Linked DNA regions of Homo sapiens: region 1 is linked to region 2. The links come from fine-mapping of genetic effects on gene expression. A gene starts in region 2. The other region holds a variant in brackets. All regions are shown on one strand. Distances are between the middles of the regions.

Evidence for each region. PIP is the estimated chance that this variant, and not a neighbour inherited with it, causes the effect.
Region 1: its variant is fine-mapped to the expression of ZXDC in whole blood (INTERVAL, PIP above 0.99). The same link has a PIP of 0.9 or more in nucleus accumbens, subcutaneous fat, sun-exposed skin, thyroid and tibial nerve.

What each region holds. Positions count from the first base shown.
Region 1 is chr3:126,436,885-126,447,120 of GRCh38, reverse strand. ZXDC (ZXD family zinc finger C) reads left to right here. Exons shown (of 10, transcript NM_025112.5): 8 at 5,175-5,356; 9 at 7,394-7,489; 10 at 8,660-9,520. The coding sequence ends at 8,746. Among named protein-coding and RNA genes, the nearest start is that of ZXDC, 34 kb to the left of the region's middle. RefSeq lists an enhancer at 5,243-5,878. The variant G/A (reference allele first, on the strand shown) is at 5,363.
Region 2 is chr3:126,470,779-126,481,014 of GRCh38, reverse strand. ZXDC (ZXD family zinc finger C) reads left to right here and starts at 5,124. Exons shown (of 10, transcript NM_025112.5): 1 at 5,124-6,056; 2 at 8,710-8,862; 3 at 8,964-9,042; 4 at 9,990-10,120. The coding sequence starts at 5,150. RefSeq lists silencers at 4,855-5,364, 5,435-5,694 and an enhancer at 6,252-6,777.

The DNA of each region.
Region 1 (10,236 bases), 34 kb after region 2:
GTGAGATGGGAGGAGGCAGTCGGGTACTCAGGGCCTGCCAGATGCCCTGGAGGAGAGAGTGCCCCTGCAGAACAAAGGACCTGTCGTGTGAGCAGCACATCCCTAAGCAAAGGGTGAGCACTCAGCACAGGCAGGGCTGGTCATGTGGGTTTACTCTGGAAGAGATCATTGTGGGTTCCTTATGCTTTCTCCCCTGTAGCTTCACCACCCAAGAAAAACTACTTACAGTGTTTCAGTGTTAAACTGAATGAAACCTACACAAATGTGAAATCTGAAACCTACACAAATGACTTGTTTTTGAAAAATGATAAACATTTTTATCTGCTTTTTGTTCTTAATATGAATATTTTTCCTTGTGGATAAGTATATTAACATATTATATCTTTATAAGAGCTGTGTTGAACTAACCATGTCAGGGACCTAGTGAGTTAAGCCCCAGTGACCTCTGATCTTCCACCCTTGGGAGAATTGGGAAAATAGTCACTTACCTCCTGTTCAAGTGAGGATCTCAGTAGAGGAAGCTCGCATGACCCCCTGTGGTTATCAAGGGAGGGGCCTGAGCCTCATCTGTGCAGATCCTTTCTCGGGGCACCTGGCTGGCTCTGAACTCTGTCCTGTGGCAGGCACTGCGGTGCTACTGGTGTGGGGATGGCATGCTGTTTGAGCCAGGCCCAGTGCTGTTGACCTCACCTAATTCTCGTCATGGCACGGTGAGGTGAAAGCAGTGTGGCCATCTCCATTCACCGCAGATGATGGGAGCTGAGTCACATAGCTGGATCGTCCAGCTCCCAAGCCGGGGCCCTTGACCACTTTGCTATTTACCATCATACCTAGATAGGACTCTTCCTTAAGGAGTCCTTCCTTGCTTCCCAGGAGGTTGCTTGGTGTTGGATTTATACTGCTCCTCTCCCCACTCCTGCAGATTCTCCAGCACAAGCAAGCATTTTGGATAATGATTGAAAATATTGAAGCAAAATGTAGTTCGGTGTTGTTACCTTGTTCTATAAGGGTTTGTGGTTGTCCATTGTGAGAGAGGAATTTGATTTTTCTTGTGACTGCTTTATTAATTAAATTGATCATATTGCATTTGATGCCATGGCGCCCTTTACTAGTGAGGACCCAGGGCTTCATGGTTATCGTGAGGACGTGGTGTGGACCCCATTTGTTTGCTTTGGCATGTCCTTAAGCATCCCTAGATAAACATACTTGCTTAGTTAACCCAGGAAGTTTATGATTAACTTTCAGCCATCTTAAATGTTCACGACATACCACCAGACTTCAGGGTGTACCGTCAGGGATTCTAGGACAGAACACCCTGCTCAGGCCTGGGGGACAACTCAGCAACTGGGGCTTGGCCCCTCCTCCCCTGGCTGCCCTGTTCTCTCACAGCTGTTGGCCTGGACCCCTGCATCCTTTCCAGGTTCATCTTCCAGGTGCAGTCCTTGCTGGAACGGACTCTCTGAGAAGGGGTGTCCGAGCTCATCTGTGGCAGGTTCTCCCCCTCACCCACAGCTGTCCTTCTGCTTGCCAAAAAACGGGGAGGCTGCAACTCTCCACCAGACTTCTACTGCAGTGTGTTGCCTTGGAGTGCACACAAAAACAGGATATCCTTCCAGAGCACCAAACCCAGGGGCAGTTCCAAATACTGGTTTCAGGGAAGCATCCTGTAGAATAATACCGACATTAAAACTTTAATGAGCCGGGCTTGCCAGCTTACCCTTCCTGTGCAGAGATGTGTCTAGGGGTGGACGCTGAGATGTTCTGCTTGAGGTACATCAGAGAGGGGATGTGGGGCATGGATGGACATCTCTCGTAGAAAGTCCTCACCTTTGCCAGCCCTCTGCTGTTGTCAAAGAATGTATTACTTTTCAGGAATGAGCCCTATGTATGTATAAGCGTGAGCAATTCTTTTCAGCTATTGACTTTTTATCCCTAGACGAGTTGTTAGCTGGGAAGAAAAATACCTTCTGATGCAAATTAGTGGTGGTGTTTCTTCTCAGTGTAACTGGTGTCTACAGGACTACCTGAGACACTGAATTAAATGTGCGGATTGAAAAGAAATTCCTGTGATTTTTTTTCATATTGTATGCTGATACAGAAGTTGAAACCAATTTAGCTTGTCATGAGATATTCTCGTTACAGCCTATCTTTTTTCCTGTTGTAAAAGTAATACAAGTAAATTGTTAATAAAGATAGAATCATTTTAGTTACTGGTTTAGGTATAAAAGGAAAGTGTAACCATGTCTAGCAACATTAGTGGAATTATTTCTGATTTTGCACCCAATTCTGATTTTCCCATGATTCGAATGGCACATACATTCTAGCACACATTTTGCAAAGGAATATTAGGATTCAGTCATATTTCTTGCTTTGTAGGTAACTTAGAGCGTGGCGTACACATTTGGCATTGAATCATGATGAATGGCTCAGTTTTATCTTGTTTATGTTATAAAACTTGATAATAAATACTTGATATACATCATTTAAAATCTTGCCTGCTTTTAAAAGAAATCTGGAGAGATACACTATTCACTGCCTGCCTTAATTTATTCTACAGTGGTTTTCATATTATTATTATTTTTTTTTTTTGAGAGGGAGTCTCGCTCTGTCACCCAGGCTGGAGTGCAGTGGCATGATCTCGGCTCACTGCAAGCTCTGCCTCCTGGGTTCATGCCATTCTCCTGCCTCAGCCTCCCGAGTAGCTGGGACTACAGGCACCCGCCACCACCACTGGCTAATTTTTTGTATTTTTAGTAGAGACGAGGTTTCACCGTGTTAGCCAGGATGGTCTCGATCTCCTGACCTTGTAATCTGCCCGCCTTGGCCTCCCAAAGCGCTGGGATTACAGGCGTGAGCCACTGCGCCCGGCCAATATTTCTAATATAATAACATGTTTCAGTATTTTTATTTGAATTTAAAAATGAAGCCAGGCCTTTTATTAGAAAGCAAGCGTAATGCGACTGTTCTGGCTGCAGCACCGGCCCTGCTGCTGGGGCTTCGTGGGCAGGCAGTTCCCCCTCACTTGAATAAACTCAACCTGCAGCTGCAAAGTTGTGATGACACATGAGCATCTTATTTTAAAAAAGTTTTTAATTGACAAGAATAGATGCTGACCATGTCTAATTCTAGCAAGAAGTAATATTTAGACACAAATACATGAACTAACTGGGGAAGAAAACCACCAGTCAGTCCCACTCCTCTTGAAAAGCATTTTTAATATAATTTTGCTTTTAATATCATAATTATCTATCAAAGTTTCTGATATATTTTGTTTTGATTTGTTTTGCATTACTAATAATTGCAGTTGTAACAGTTCAAACCAAAAATGTTAATGCCTAGAAGTTAAATAAAAGTTAAGTTTATGTACATATTTTTATATGCTAGGGTGATAAAAGACTTGAAAGCATAGAAATGCATTCAGGTAAAATTCTGGAGGTAAGTGGGATAGTATACAAGCTCACGGAGGATATAGGCACGCTTCATTTTTTGCAGTTGACTTTTTTTTTGCTTTTTACAAATTGAAGGTTTGTGGCAAACCTGTATCCAGCAAGTCTGTTGGCACCATTTTTCCAACAGCATGTTCTCACTTCATGTCTATGTCGGTATTTGTTAGCAATAAAGTATTTTTAAATTAAGGTATGCATTGTTTTAGACATAATGTTATTGCAGACTTAATAGACTGCAGTACTAGGAACTGATGTGAAGTTTCCTCAAGGAGGGGTGAGTAAGTTTTGTGCCCCAGGCACCTCTCTTGCCCCAGACCCAGCCCTGCTCTTCTGTCTGAAGCAAGTAGAGCAATTAGAAAAAGAGAAACCAGGCGTGGAGAACAGTCAGAGATGATCCAGAGCGAGGGTTGCTGGGTTTTCTGGAACACTGATGGATGAACAGAAAGGAAGTATTTTGTAATGGAAGTGCATCTCCCTGCAGTGAGGGGGAACTGAATCTGTGTTACCCAGAAACCTCCTGGTTAGCATTTGCACTTCAAAGAAAAAGAGCCCTGAGGCACCCAGAAAAGACAGCAGGCTGTGCCTAAGTACAGAGGACCCAAGGTTTGTGCACCCAGTTGGCTTGCCTGCTGAGTGTGAAGCTCTCCGGGACCCAGGGCACTGCGGAAGACAGGAAGGGATCTGGAGTGAGGTGAGCAGGTCAGGGAGACAGCATATGCAGGGCAAGTCAGCTCTCACCCCATGGGCTGCTCAGAACCTTCCTGTCAAACAGCCTCGTAAAAACAGCCTGCCTTGGGCAGCAGGGTCACCCAATTGAATACTTTTATTAGGAATAACTTATATGATAGTCATTGTACAGTTGTTTTTTTGAAGCCGTTCATAGCTGGATCCCACACATCCAGGCAGGGATGTGTGGGCAGAGCAGTGACAGTGCCTAAACTCCTTGGCACTCGCCAGTCACTGTTCTAAGTTTTGATCACATATTTCCTATGAAATCCTCTCCAAAACCTTCCGAGGTTGGGACTAGCATTCCCATTTTACAGGTAGATAATGCTGAGGCCCAGAGCTTGAGTTCCTTTTCCAGATCCCTGGAGCAGAGTGGGTGGCGGGTCAGGGTGAGCCTAGCCGGGGTCTCTGCAGTGCACGCTCTAGGCTACCTTTGGGCCCTTTTGAAGCAGCTCTTGGGTTTGTTATGGGTGTTAAGATTTTTTCTTTTTTCTTTGTGCTTTACTTCATTTCTTAAGAAGCACATATTTGTAAAACCCATGGAGTAGTGACTTGGAAAGGAGCTGGACAGAGGCAGCAGTCCACCCACAGGTGGGGTATGGAGACCGCCCGCTTCCTTCCTATTCCATGATGCTGTGGCTCTGGGCTGTTGGCTGTCCTCAGTTGCGCTTGGGATTCCTGCCAGCCAGCAGCTGCTGGAGTTAGAGGATTCTGCTCTCCAAGAATTTGCAGCTTGTGTCTGATTACCGTACCGTCTGGCAAAAAAATACGTATGATGTTTTTACATTTTTAAAATCAAAATCCTGATGTTTTTTTGTTCGTATGGTTGTTTGTTTCAACCTCTTAACTCTTGATTTTTTCTGTTAAGTGATTTTACGTCTCTTAGCTGTGCAGAATGACAATTAATGGGAAGGCTGTCTTCCCCATAGTGAGACCTTGGTAAGGGCAGACCTGACTGGTAGATTGTAGATTGGGTGTGCTCGTTTTTATATTTCATTTTAGGAGCCTCACAGTCTACTCAGAGAAAAATAAAAGAAGGCAAAATGAGTCCTCCCCATTTCCATGCAAGCCAGAACAGTTGGTTGTGTGGGAGCCTCGTGGTGCCCAGCGGAGGACGGCCAGGACCAGCTCCAGCAGCTGGGGTGCAGTGCGGGGCGCAGGGCGTCCAGGTCCAGCTGGTGCAGGTGAGA[G/A]CTGGCCAGTCACACAGGCCAGCTGTAGGCGGGGTGGGAGGGTCACGCAGGTCTGAGCAGTGTGCGGCATGCTGCATCCCCTGCCCATCGCAGCACCCCCTGCCTGCCTGCCCCTCGTGCATCCTCCCCTGTAGACTGCCCCAAGTCCTGTCTCCTCACAGCCCAGCTCCTCCCTTTTTCCCAGCCTGTCCTGCATCTGCTCAAGCTCTGAGTGTTGCTGGGACCGTGCATCCACTTCCTGAACCTGTCTGTGCACAGCCCTGCGTCTAGCCCCAGAGTAGCCCGCCTCCCTGCCCGAGGCCCCCAGGGCTGTTTTGCAGCAGGATGAGATCTGTTTGAGGCCACCCTGCCCTTCTTCTGCAGGGCTGGGGCAAAAGGGCTCCGCAGGCCGTCTCAGCCACCCCATTTCTAGGGCGGCCTGCTTGTGGCGCACTAGCAGCCTTTCTATGCTGAAGGTGGTGGGGGTCTTTTCAGTGTTTTTCTATTTTCTTTCCTACGAAACAGAGCCCCTCCAGGGCAGGCCCAGGCCCCTCCCAGCCTGTCCGGGCCACAGATACCTGCAGCTGTGGCCAGTTTCCAGGAGGTCTTTGAGCACACCTGCTTCAGCAGCCCTGAGCACACCTGCATCTTCAGTCTCAGTTTGAGGGGCTGGAATGGGGAGGGAAGATGATTTGGAAGGATTTGGGGAGAGAAGAGATATACAAGCCGGGGCTGTCTGGGTTTGGCCCAGGTGTGTGCCCCTCTTCACCACTCCACTTTGTAGATTCCCTGTGGCAGGGGATGCGGTTGCAGGCCCCACGGAAGTGCGGAGGGTGGAGGTGACGCTGGCTCTGAGTTGGGAAACAGGCACGTTTGTGGGTTCAGAGTCCTGGGAGAGTCTCGCCAAGGAAACAGGACCAGGCCTGGGGCTCAGAGAGGCAAGAGGAGGGGCAGCCTGGGCAGAGGTGGGCTGGGAAGGGGGCAGGGAAGAGGCTGCGGGCAGCTGGGGGTGGCCCTGTGCTGGTTGGAAGCTAGCGGTGAGCGTCAGATGGGGGCTGAAGCTTGTCTTAGAGAGGGGCAGGAGCACTGGTCCTTTGTTTCCAGCTTCTGAAGAGGTAAGAACTCCCCAGGAGCAGGGGCAGGGGGAGGGGGAGGACCATCCAAGGAAACACTGCCTCAGCTGGCAGGGCAGAGGTACAGAGTCAGGACCAGAGGCTTGGCAATAGGGAGACGGTAGGGAAGCTGGTGCCACCGGCAGAACAGGAGCAAGTAGGGGGTATACTTTTAAGAGATGCCTGATTAAACCTGGGTTTGAGTTCTTTTTCTGTCCCTTACCAGCTAGCGTAGTCTTGGTTACTTAAGCACTCCGGGCCTCAGTTTTGTCATCTATGAAATGGGAACAGTAGTGCAGACCTTGACACACAGGAGCTTCTCAAACAGAAGGAATGAGAGGTGCAGAGCAGCAGCACCAGGAGCTCCGCTTCGGGGTGTGAATGGCCATGGGCGGACATGCAGGTGCAGGACAGGCGAAGTGTGGGACAGATGAAGTTTCTAGCCTGGACTGTGAGGGGCCTGGCAGCCTCCCCTCTCAGGAGCCCCTCTACCTGCCCTGGTCCTTCCAGCTGGCCCGTAGGCAAGCTGGGGCATGCAGGGAAGGCCCTCTGTGGGGCCCGAGGATTTGCTGGAGAGCACTCTGGGTACACAAGGTTGGTGGGGGTACAGGGCGTGCCAGGGCACCTGCAAGGAGTTGAGGAGCGTGCCTTAGGAGGGAAATCAGTATTTGGGCTGACTGAGGGGAGGAGCTGGAGAGCAGAAGGTTCCAGGCCCAGCAAAAGCTGCTGGGATCAAGGTGACAGAATGAGAACCAGGTGGGAACAGGTAGTACCCAGCCCCCATAAACAATTCCTGCTGGGTCCTCGGGCCTCCCTTGGAATACAGGGGGTGGGCTGGTTCTGCCACGCATTGCAGCTGGAGGAGACTTCTCAGGTGAGACGAGGACCTTTGCTGCACTCTCACAGACATGTGACAGGCCTTTCTGTGTTGCCTTCCCAGGATGACCCCTCCGGCGAAGGTGTCCTGCCCTCGGCCCGCGGCCCAGCCACCTTCCTCCCCTTCCTCACTGTGGACCTGCCCGTCTACGTCCTCCAGGTCTGGATGCCTTACTGCCCTTTGTTTTTCTTATTGAGACTCGCAGAGCCTTCGACTTCCAGAAGCCTGGCTTCACAGCTGCAGGCTGGTCACTGAGGCCGCGTGGCTTGGGAGGCTCAGTGGGTTGGTTGCCAGGATGTCTTGCTGCCTTCTGGAGAAGGTGGGTGAGTGGAGCTCAGATCTGCAGGACGCTGCAGCTCCTGCTGGTAGACAAAGCAGGAGAAGTTAATATGCTCTTGAAAGTGTTGTGCCTAGGAATTCCAGTTAATTCTCTGGGAAGAGGGCTGGCCAGGGCCCAGCCTGTGGGAGAATAGACTCGGATGAATTCAGTAGTTTGCTTACGTGGTTAAGCTAAGGATGGGTGGCAGTGAATGATTCAGAGTTTGATATGAAATAGCGAAAGCGTATAGCTTATCACATTTCTAACAGTTTGCCTTACGTGTTTATATATTTACAATAAGCCATGCAAATTGTGTTTTAGTTTTTTTGCATTCAAATTGGGCTATTCAGCATTTCCCTCGCAATCAAAACCAAACTTGGACAGAAGCACTGGTGGGAGCAGAGGGCCGGGCACCCAGGCTGCAGAGGGGTGAGCTGGAGGGCGGTTTGGCAGCATGGATCAGAGAACTTCAGAAGTGTCTGCTCCATCCTGCCTGGCAGCCCCCTCCTGGGACTGCTCCTGAAAAAATAAGGTAGTGACATAATCACCGTAGCCCGGAGTCAAATGGTGCAACAGCAGGAACACTTCTTGTAGCAGGAGGAGACAGGCTAGATGGGGCCTCCATAGCCCTGGGCCACATCCTGGTCAGCTGTGAGGGCACAGGCGGACGGACACCTAATACCTGGGAGAGTGCTCACCGCGTGAGAAGTGCGGAGAAAGGGTTGCAGAAGTAAAGATGATTTTGTTTCTGTAAAAAGGCATATGGGTATATGAACATGTGAGGGTATACGTCAATGTGCAGACAGAACAATCTTGAAAAATTTACAGTACAGTATTGAGTTCATTTTTCATCAAAGAACATGTGTTTAGAATAAGGGGAGCCTGTAGTTTTGAGTAAGAGAAGTCAGGTATCTCACCACGGGCCTGGTCAGTGTCCTGCTGTGTGGAGCCACAGGATCCCTCTGCCTCCCCTCCCTCCTCCCTCTTCATGACAATGCTTGGTTTTGCAGGAGGTGCTCCCCTCATCTGGAGGCCCTGCTGGACCGGAGGCCACCCAGTTCCCAGGAAGCACTATCAACCTGCAGGATCTGCAGTGACGGCAGCCTCGGCCTGGGCAGGCCCAAGGCCACGGTCTAGGACACACCTTCCCTGAGACTCATGACATGAGCCTGGGGAGACCTCATTTGGTTTCCGTTCAGAAGACCAGCGTAGCCCTTTTGAGACTTTTGGGTACATTTATCAAAAATGTTTTCCTTTTGTTTTACCAGGAATGAGTTCGGGCTATACTCTTTGAAACTGCCTTTGTGAGCAAAGTGCTTTGGCAAGGCAAGGGTCTCCCTCAGCAGGGCTAGGTGCACTACAGCCTCTTTCCCCGTGTCCCGTTGGATCTGAGCTGTGTAGCACTTGTTGCATTACAAAGAAAAAGACTTCTGCAGGAAATAGGGTAGAGAACAGGCTGTCTAGTCAGATGCAGCTTGATCTGTGGCAAAACCAAGTGTGGTCTTTCAGCTTCAGTGTGTTAGCATCCCAGCACCTGGGATGGGGTTTGTGGGCAAGTTGATTTTGCCACACTGTAGGGCCCAGGTGGTCCCATTGCCACCGTGAAGCCAAATTCTAGCCCAAGTCTGGTAGAGCAGTCGGGCAGCTAGTTTTCGGGGGAGGATGATGTGGTGGGACAGAGGACCTCAGTGGCCTATTACGGAGCCCTCTTCCCAGACTAAATTCATAGCCGAGAGCTCGGGGGGATGGTAGAGTTAAAATTTAAAATAATTTTCTAAATTCTGTATTTGGATATTAGTGTTTAAGTGGTAATTTGGCAACAGTTTATAAAGTGATGTTCTGAATACCATAAATTATGTGTAGGACTGTGATGGCGCGTGTATGTTTTATTATTGAGGTTGATGTGCACATAATACGTCAGTGTATATTTTTACCGAGTGAGGTCTGTCTTGTAAAAGGAGACAAGGTGATCACCTTGCCCATGTTTATTTGTAAGTCTGTCAACTTAGCAATGACACAGGGTCACTCCTAAATGACTTTTTTTTTTTTTTTTGCCTTGTGCCTTTTGAAGTATGTGTTCATTCAGAGGCTGTTTTGATTCTCAGACTGAATCATTCAAACTCTGCCCTGTGTTTGTTTCTTGAATTTGGGGGTGACATCAAGTTTGAGTGAGTCCTCCCTCTGTCTTGTCTCACTCTGAGGTGCTGTCCCCAGGTGCTGTTCCACGTGGAAGAATCCACACCTCGTCGACAAATGGGTCTTCTCCACAGACCGGCGCTCTGTCACCAACTAAAGGCGAGGGGAGAACTTGCCCACCTGGCAGGCTCTTTAGCCCCAAGGTGGCCCGGAGTCCTCCTCCCTCCATGGGAGGCTTTTGGCCACCATGGCGGGTGGAGCCGCACCCACCCCATCTCCATGGGGAGGAGAGTCTTCCCCCAGGAATGCCCTCTCGGCCTCTATTTTTCTCCCATGTGCCTCCCTGGGAACGTCACCGTGAAGTGACTGGGACTGGCACCCAGTGTTCTGGGCACCAAGGTTCCCTGCCGGTGATGGGCCTAACTCCTAGTGCAAATGAATGAAAGTTTTC
Region 2 (10,236 bases):
TGGAAGCCCAAGACCAGGTGCCAGCTGGCGTAATTCCTGGTGAGGCCAACTTCTCACTGCATCCTTCCATGGCAGAGACAGAGAGGGGAGAGTGTTACAGAGAGGGGCAGAGACAGAAAGACAGAGACAGAGAGGGGAGAGTGTTACAGAGAGGGGCAGAGACAGAAGGACAGAGACAGAGAGGGGAGAGTGTTACAGAGAGGGGCAGAGACAGACAGAGAGTCACAGAGAGAGACAGAGAGAGAGGAAGAGACAGAGAAAGAAAGAGATACAGAGAGGAAGAGACAGAGAAAGAGAGAGATAGAGAGAGTAAGAGACAGAGAAAGAGAGAAAGACAGAGATAGTGAGAGAGACAGGACAGAGTGTGTAGGGACGAATCGTCTGTCCCCACATCTCCATGAAAGCACCCTGCTGCATGGATCTGTGCACACATCTTAAGAGCGGGCCACAGGGCCCTGGCATCACCCTTTCCCCATCCAGCACCTTCCCTCTTGAAGGACAGGGAGGGCTCTGGTGGCTTCCAGCTGCACACAGACCCCAGACCCCCTCTGGGCTCCATACCAAGCCATGCCAGGGAGCAAGCTACTTCCCTGGCCCCTGCATGCCAACCTGCTGTCTGCTGCTGCAGTGGTAAGTGACAGCTGACTCCCACGGGGCTCACAGCGGAATTGGGGCAGCTGGTCACAGCTGTAGTCGCCATGGAAGGAACAGCGTGGCTTCTGATGTGCCCAGTGCCATCTTCTTTTTCAGAAGGCAAGGATGTATAGTCCAGTTAGAAATGTTTTCATCAAAATGATTAAAAGAGAAACCAGTTGGCCATGATGAGTGTAGGGTTCAGTTGCCTTAAGAGTTGGAGGTGAGAAAGGCTCAGGCCCTGCAGTACAGCATTAGGGTCCTCCCCCTGGGCAGCGCCTGCTCTCTGCAAACCCAGGGTCCCTGGGAACTGTATGCTTTCCTTGCTGGCAAGCCAAGGTCAGGGAGGGAGGGCCTGGCTGAGTGATGCACTCTCCCATTCCAGTTTTCCCAGAGTAGACAACCACACAGGGGCCTGTGGGCCGGGCATGACCTGCAGTTATGTTTTATTTATATATTTTTTAGAAATAGGATCTTGCTCTGTCACTCAGGCTGGAGTGCAGTGGTGCAATCATGGCTCACTGTAGCCTTGAACTCCTGGGCTGAAGTGATCCTCCTGCCTTAGCCTCCCAAGTAGCTGGGACCACAGGAGCACAGCACTACACTCAGCCTGCAGTTGTGTTTTGTTTGGTCTGTCCTGTTTTTAAAAAAATTTGACTTTGTCACCAATGTTTACAAATTGGGAGAAATCCAGAGCTTATTTTTTGAAAATCAAGATATAAGGTAACACCATGTTCTCACCACCTCTGTGGCAGTGATTTGCTGGGGGCCCCTCTGGGCTGGCCTAGCTCTCTGCACTTGGCCACAGTCCCTTCCAGTCCCTACAGAACCCATGGTGAGGCGGAGCGTGTATGCTGTTTGTCCCTTGGCATGAGAGTCTATGTTTCCTGTGCCCACCTGTCTCCCACATTTGTGTGACTTGTATGACCTCTGCTGGGATTTGAACTTGTGACCTTTGACAAAGAGATGCTCTTTTGCTCCCAGTGAACCTCATCCCCACTCCCATCAAAATTTGGGAATCCTGGACACTTCTCTGTTAGCAATCTCAAGATCCACATGATGCCTTTTAGCCCAAAAGAGGTGCTGGACATCCAGCGATACCTGGGCTGATGGGATTTCTCCCCAGACACAAATAAATCTGAGCGTGCATGCGTGTGTCATCTGCGTCCCTTCCCCTGGCTTCTCCAAAATCCTTTCCACACAGCCTGGAGAGTACAGGTCTGGCTGGCCAAGGCACAATCTCTGTGGTCCTTGTAATTTGGGGCACTCCTTTGAGACTACCAAGTTCAAGTCTCTGCCTGAGCCCCACTGGATGACCACATTGAGCTGACTCAAGCCCACCTGGTGAAGTGGCGCGTCTGACCCTCGCCAGGAGTCCTGTTGCTCCTTTCAGGGTATCTCAGCAGAAGGCTGAAACAACCTAGTATCTGAAACAACCTAGTATCAGATTTGAGCTTTGGTTGGGTGGGGGAGTCTTAGGAAGCGGGGATTTGCTCTGGATTGGCTCTTACCAGAAATCGGGTCAACACCATGACTAGGTTTCTGACTAAATCCTATATACAGAGAGGGAAGCACACAGACAGACAGGCTGTCAGGGGTACAAAAGCGGCGGCTGCTCACGTTAGCTGAGAGAGGGGCTGCTGGGTATCTTGTAAATGGCACAGCAAGTGACCTCGCTTTATCTGGGTGGAGACACATCATGAAGTGGCCTTGCTTTGTCTCATGTCATTGTGTTTCAGTGACCTTGGCCTAGGTTGGTTTTCTGCGTGATGGTTCAAGTCTTACAGAACAGAGTGGCCCAGCTGTAGCACCCGGCCAGTTTCTGGATGGCAGGGGCTGCCCTTTTTCTTTCTCAGTCCCCTTCATTTTACACATGAGGAAACTGAGGCACAGAGAAGTTGTGATAGTTTAAAAATGGCTGCAAATTCTTTCCAGCACCTCCCATTGAGAGGTGGAGTACAAGTTCCCCTTGCCTGGGTCTGCAGTGTCTTATGACTTCTTTGATCACGAGAATGTGGCATAATCAATGCTGCGCAACAAGTTGGGCATGGTGGCATATGCCTGTAGTCCAGTTAATTGGGAGGCTGACCCGGAAGGACTGCTTGAGGCCAGTTGGAGGTCGCACTATGATTGCACCTGTGAATAGCCACCACACTCCAGCCTCAGCAACACAGGGATGGACTTGCTGGGTCATGTGGAGATTATGTTTAGCTTTCTGCAGAACTGCCAAACTGTTTTCCACACCGCAACGTTATACATTCCCACCAGCCATATGTGAGAGTTCCAATTTTTCTATATCCTGTTTTTAAAAAAATTACCACTATTTGAGTAGGTGTGAAGTTGTATCTCACTGTGTTTTGATTTGCATTTCCCTAATGATTCGTGATGTTGAGCCTCTTTTTATTTGCTTATTGGCTGTTTGTATTATCTTCTTTGGAGAAATATGTCTATTCAAACCTTTGCCTTTTAAAAAAGTGGACTGTTTGTCTTCTTGCTAAGAGTTCTTTATATATTCCAGATAGTAGATCCTTATCAGATATTCGATTTGCACACCCTTCTCCCATTCTGAGTTGTCTTTTCACTGTCTTATTGGTGTCCTTTTACCTGAGTAAGTTTTTAATTTTGATGAAGTCCAAGTTATCTATTTTTCTTTCTTGTGCTTTCAATATTATATCTAAGAAACTATTCCCTAATCCAGGGTCACATAGATTTACACCTACTTTTCTTCAAATAGTTTTATGTCTTACGTGTAGGCTTTTGCTCTAATTTGAGTTAATTTTTGCCTCTGATGAGAGATACACGTCCAAATTGGTTCTTTTGCATGTGGAGATCCAGTTGTCCCAGTGCCGCCATTATTGAAATGACTATTCTTTCCTCTACTGAATGGTCTAGGAACAATATGTTTTCGGCATAAACTGATATATATAATAGATGTATCCTATTCTTTTTAATATTATAATTTGTGTTACTTAAAAAAATACTCTTAATAATAAAGCATTCATGTATTTAACAAATATGCACCAAGAGTCTTCCTGGGCACACACAGTGAATAGGACACAGTTCCTGGGCTCCAGGAGCCTACATTCCAGAGAGGGAGAGACAGTGAAGGAGCAGGGAAGGAACTCAACAAAACAACGGGTGATGAGAGCTCTAAGAGCAAACAGATCAGACAGAGGTGGGAATACGGGACTGGGTAAGCATGTGCTTTGGATCAGAAGGGGCGCAGAGTCCTCCCAGAGGAATCAGAGATCAGCTGCGCCAAGTCTCTGAGGCTGGAACCAGCTTGGCTTGCTGGATGAACTGGGAAAAAGAGGTGGGGTGCGGGGGAGGGGTGGGGGGGGCAGCGGGAGAGTGGCGGGAAGTGAGGGCAAACAGGTAGGGGAGGGTAGACTAGCAAGGCCATAGGCGCCTTCGGGAGCAAGGTGGAGGTGAGCATAATTTGATGTGCAATTTTTAGATCATAAAACGGTGCCCCGTGGATGGGAGCGAGTGGAGCGGAGGGAGACCGATGACCAGCTAGTAGTTATTTTTCAGGTACCCAGGAATAAAGTGCGGGTTTGGATCTGAGTGGTGGTGAAGTTGAAGTGGAGGAGTCCAGATTGAATGCGGAGGTGTACGGTGAGGTGGGGGAGGGTGAGGACCGGAAACAGTAAGTAATTAAGCTGTTGCAGAGTGAGGTTGTGCCAAGTTTAGTAGGAAATACAGTTGGAAATACAGGCAGGGGTCCTGCGTATCAGGGAGGCCCCGTGTGCCGAGCAAGGACCTGGGCCAAAGCAAACGAGGTCTGTGCGCCAGCGGCGGCAGGCGAGCTTGCACTTAAGTGAGCTGGGGGTAGGCGTCCGGCCTGTTGGACAGGTTCGAATCCTGGATCTGCCGGCTGCCGAGTGACTCGAGCTCGCCGTCCCTGTTTCCTCACCCCTGGGTGACCGCGCACGCTTAATCAGCTCGGACAGGTACAGCCCCTGGGACGCAGTCAATGCCTACGAGAGGTTGCCTGTTAAGTGTCTGAAATATTAATACGATTCGAAGTCAAGACAAGCCTCGTCTTCCACGCCAGCGGGAACGAGAAGGAATCGCTCAGCGTTGGGAGCCTCACCCCGTCCCCTGTCGGTCCCGTGCCCCGCCGCTCGCCCTCGTAGGTGCCGGCGCTCCGCCCCCCGACCCCGCGCCCCGCCCCCCGACCCCGCGCCCCGCCCCCCGACCCCGCGCCCCGCCCCCCGACCCCGCGCCCCGCCCCCCGACCCCGCGCCCCGCCCCCCGACCCCGCGCCCCGCCCTAGTCGGTCCCGGCGCCCCGCCCCCGCCTCCGCCTCCGGCGCCCCGCAGCCCAGCCTCACGTCACGTCAGCCCAGCAGGCCTCGCGCATCGCCCGGCGGCGTCCGCGCACGCGCGGTTCCGAGCCGGACTCTACGCCGGGGCTTGGCGCGGATCGCGTCCCGGGGCGGCGCACGCACACCTGGGCGGGGCGCGGGCAGCTCTGCGTCCGAAGCTGCTCCGACGCCGTCGCTGGGACCAAGATGGACCTCCCGGCGCTGCTCCCCGCCCCGACTGCGCGCGGAGGGCAACATGGCGGCGGCCCCGGCCCGCTCCGCCGAGCCCCAGCGCCGCTCGGCGCGAGCCCCGCGCGCCGCCGCCTGCTACTGGTGCGGGGCCCTGAAGATGGCGGGCCCGGGGCGCGGCCCGGGGAGGCCTCCGGGCCAAGCCCGCCGCCCGCCGAGGACGACAGCGACGGCGACTCTTTCTTGGTGCTGCTGGAAGTGCCGCACGGCGGCGCTGCCGCCGAGGCTGCCGGATCACAGGAGGCCGAGCCTGGCTCCCGTGTCAACCTGGCGAGCCGCCCCGAGCAGGGCCCCAGCGGCCCGGCCGCCCCCCCCGGCCCTGGCGTAGCCCCGGCGGGCGCCGTCACCATCAGCAGCCAGGACCTGCTGGTGCGTCTCGACCGCGGCGTCCTCGCGCTGTCTGCGCCGCCCGGCCCCGCAACCGCGGGCGCCGCCGCTCCCCGCCGCGCGCCCCAGGCCTCCGGCCCCAGCACGCCCGGCTACCGCTGCCCCGAGCCGCAGTGCGCGCTGGCCTTCGCCAAGAAGCACCAGCTCAAGGTGCACCTGCTCACGCACGGCGGCGGTCAGGGCCGGCGGCCCTTCAAGTGCCCACTGGAGGGCTGTGGTTGGGCCTTCACAACGTCCTACAAGCTCAAGCGGCACCTGCAGTCGCACGACAAGCTGCGGCCCTTCGGCTGTCCAGTGGGCGGCTGTGGCAAGAAGTTCACTACGGTCTATAACCTCAAGGCGCACATGAAGGGCCACGAGCAGGAGAGCCTGTTCAAGTGCGAGGTGTGCGCCGAGCGCTTCCCCACGCACGCCAAGCTCAGCTCCCACCAGCGCAGCCACTTCGAGCCCGAGCGCCCTTACAAGTGTGACTTTCCCGGTAACCGCGCTCTCGGGGGCGGGCGGGCTGCGCGGTGTTGCAGGCAGGTCTGGGGTGCCACGTCCGCCCCACAGAGGGGCCTGCCAGACCTTAGCAAGCCGGGGACGCAGGCTCTTCGGGATTTGTATTCTAGCTCCTTCCATGTCATTCGATTTGAGATCTTGGCCCTGCCCTGCCGCAGGGATTCCGATGGCAGGTAGCGCAGATCACCACAGCTGCGCTTCCCAAAGGTGGCGGCAACAGATATCCTTAACCTGCTTGTGCTTGATGAAAGCGGCACGCATCTTCACAGAGTGGCACGGAGCTATGTGTCAGGTCTTTATTTTCCTCAGTCTCGTCATTTGTTTACGGGGTGCACACTCCGTGCTAGAGGAGCAGAGATGAATGTGGCCAGATTCAGGACCTTAACACGCTGGGAGGATAGCCACAGGTGTGCGCACATCCTGGCTTTTTTTGCCTTTTGCACTTTGATTTCCGTTGAACCTCACAGTTTTGTGAAGTTTTAAAAATTAGCCGTCTGTGAAGGTTAAAAACTGTCCTCTTTTACAGATGAAGAGACAGAGGCCGAGCCTTGTGGATAAAGTCCACTGCTGGTGGCTGGGCGCGGTGGCTCACGCCTGTAATCCCAGCACTTTGGGAGGCCGAGGCGGGCGGATTACGAGGTCAGGAGATCGAGACCATCCTGGCTAACACGGTGAAACCCCGTCTCTATTAAAACTACAAAAAATTAGCCGGGCGTGGTAGCGGGCGCCTGTAGTCCCAGCTACTCGGGAGGCTGAGGCAGGAGAATGGTGTGAACCCCAGAGACGGAGCTTGCAGTGAGCCGAGATCGCGCCACTGCATTCCAGCCGGGGCGACAGAGCGAGACACCGTCTCAAAAAAAAAAAAAAAAAAAAGTCCACTGCCTGTTCTTTCTCCTGTGTGTTGACCTGCAGTTGTTGGGAATGTAGGACTCCAACACAGTGAGCTCTTCACCAGGATGGGCAGCTTTCCCTGCTTTCACAGGGATAGGGTTCCTCCAGAAGGGCAAGAAAGGATTCCTCCCTGGAAAGGCAGAAGAATGGAGTCGGCTGGGTGGCAGAGCCCAGGTGGGGATTGTGGTCTGTGGTGAGGGCCCAGGAGGAAGGACCAGTCATTCAAACAGAAACTGGAATGTGTGCCTAGCATGCCCCTAACCTGTATATGCACACGGCTCTCCTTATAATGTCCTTAAACAAGAATTTTTAAAGGATGAGATGAGAATTATGAACGGGTTTTATTATTTTTTCCCTCGCATATGCCTGTGGACTGTCTTGCGCATTCCTCTTCAGAGAGAATGTGGCTTGAGGCCACTAGCTCAAAGTCTTTTTCAGTCATACACTCTTGGGAATCTGATGGTGGCTGTAGACCCTTTCCCTGCTAAAAGAGTATCATTCTGTGTATGACACTGGGAAGGTCAGGGATCCCGCCTGCTTCCAGGCATGAGGTCTCTTGAGGGTTTTGTGTTGGCTGATCCATGAGGCTTCTTGTGTTGAGATGAGATTAGATGGTTAGATGAGATTAGATGTTTAGAAGCAGGAGCAGGACCAGGGAAGCATCATCAAAGGGCCCAGACCTGAGTTTTCTGAAGGCCTGAGCCAGGGAGTGGGAATGATGAGGGTCTCTAGCAGGTGAGATTGCAGAGGGAGAACCAAAGGGTGTAATTATCTATGGGGGTGTGGGGGGTTCTTGCCAAGGCAGAGAGAGTCTGTGTTCAGATTTACATGACCAAGTGTGTGAACACACCGAAGCCCAAAATACCCTGGAGGTATTTTGGGACCAGATTGAGGCCAAAGATCAGCATTTCTGAGTTAGATGTTGCTGGGGAAAGTAGGGTTCCTTGGGCTGATACTTTTGGGCAGTGCTATGCCATGTACATCTGTGTGGCAGTTCATAGGCATGATAGTATCTCGTTAAAGGCTCCAAGAGGAGCTGCAGCAAAGACTCCTGTTAAACATCCTGCAGCCTCATGTTTTCCACCCTGTTGGAGCCCTGAATGTTTCTGTCGGAGGAGAAGTATTGCTGTGGAATTGTTGAGGCTTAGCTGCTTTGGCCAGGGGTTAGGATTGAGGTGAAGATTACAAAGCAGGGAACCTAAGGAAATTGCGAAAGGAAAAAGAATCCAAACAGCAAGGGACAGGGCTGGCAGTTGGAGGGTGTCAGGGAGGAAATTTGGATATGTAGAGGATGCAGCATCACCCCCAAGGGGTGAAAAATCCTGGCTAGTAGGATGATTTGTAGCCTTTCAAAGATCAACCCTACCAGACAAAATCTTGTTCCTTAGTATTTGATTTCTCTCATGGGGTTCTTGGGTCTCAGTGTGTGTGCAGGATCAGTGCTCCGGAGCCGGCCAGTAGATGGCTGTGAACGGAGGACTTTCTCTTTATCGGTTGCTCCATCTCCAAGTCATGTTGCAACAGGTGGCCAGCGTGTGCCTATTGGCTGCCATTAGCTGCCTTCCTGTGGTGATCACAAAGCCAAGCATTAATGGTCTTCCCTTTTTAGAGAGTGCTTCTGAGTCATGTTTTCCCTTGTCTGCTTCAGTGTGAACAGGGTCTGGTGGGTGTGACTAGCATTAGCTATGTTGTATAATTTTTGCCACGCTTTGAGCAGGGTTTGTGTTTTCCTTGTTCAGGCTGTGAGAAGACATTTATCACAGTGAGTGCCCTGTTTTCCCATAACCGAGCCCACTTCAGGGAACAAGAGCTCTTTTCCTGCTCCTTTCCTGGGTGCAGCAAGCAGTATGATAAAGCCTGTCGGCTGAAAATTCACCTGCGGAGCCATACAGGTAATGAGCTAGGGAACGCACAGCATTTGGACCCAAGATTTGTCTTCATCGTAGCTGTTGGAGTTGTAAATTTTATGCTGTATAATTTTTTCTTTTATAAGGTGAAAGACCATTTATTTGTGACTCTGACAGCTGTGGCTGGACCTTCACCAGCATGTCCAAACTTCTAAGGCACAGAAGGTAATCCTTACATTTTGGTTTGCATTATCAGGTTTGAAAATGAGTGGTTTGTCAGCAGCAGAAACCAATGAATGAAATATCTGTAGACATTTTTTAAGTTGTTAAAAAAGGAGCTCAGTGTTGATGATTTGGAAAATTCAGAAAACTGTAAAAAGAAAATTGCTCAGAATCTCATCACCTGAAGTCAGTTTTTTCTGTGTATACTTTTTTTAAAAAAAGCTAAATTGGCATACTCTGTTCTTAAAAAAAAAACAATTCCAGGTTTTTTTTTTAACTTAACATTGTAGAATAAGCTTTCTTCATGTAATTACAAGTTTTCATGGTGGTAATGACAACCCTGGAGACTGTGTCCAGGTGACACTCAGCACTTTACATGTGTGTCTTCTACCTTCCCAACAACCTCAAAGCTAATGTTCTTATTCTCCCTGTTTTACAGTGAGACTCGGAGAGATTCAGTGGTTTTTCTGTACTTGCACAGCTGGGCTCTGAGGATTTAATATAAAAATGTCACTTAGGAAAAGACACAGTCTTTACAAGTTGGCTTAAGAGAGTCCTTTTGGCATTGCAGCTGATGCTCTGTGCACATTTCTCACGACCGTCTGTCGCTCGGAAAGCTTGTTGATCATTGGGGTTTCTAAACAATAGAAACACCTTCATCAATACATTTGGGACTCCACTGTTCTTAGATTAGCTTATATTAGATTGAAGTAGCATTAATTGTTTGATGTGTGACTCTGGGGTCAGCTTAGTCATTAAAGTAGAATTTTTATGGGGTAGCTAAATTGCAAATCTGCTCACATGGATTAAAGACAGAATTAAGATTTTCCGAAATGTACTGATCATTTTTGTAAATGCAAAGTTTGTGTTTTGGTATGTTTTGTAGAATTTTAAAGAATTATGGTGAGTTGTGTGAGGAATCACAGCTCCTTTATTTTTCTGTCTGGCAGGAAACATGACGATGACCGGAGGTTTACCTGCCCTGTCGAGGGCTGTGGGAAATCATTCACCAGAGCAGAGCATCTGAAAGGCCACAGCATAACCCACCTAGGCACAAAGCCGTTCGAGTGTCCTGTGGAAGGTAGATTTTAAAACATTGCTTTGAGCAGTAAACTAAGTGCAATGCCAACATTTATCCTGTTAAGTTTCCGTTGTTTAAAGGTAAATGTTAGCTGCTTAAAGACTGACTCAATATAA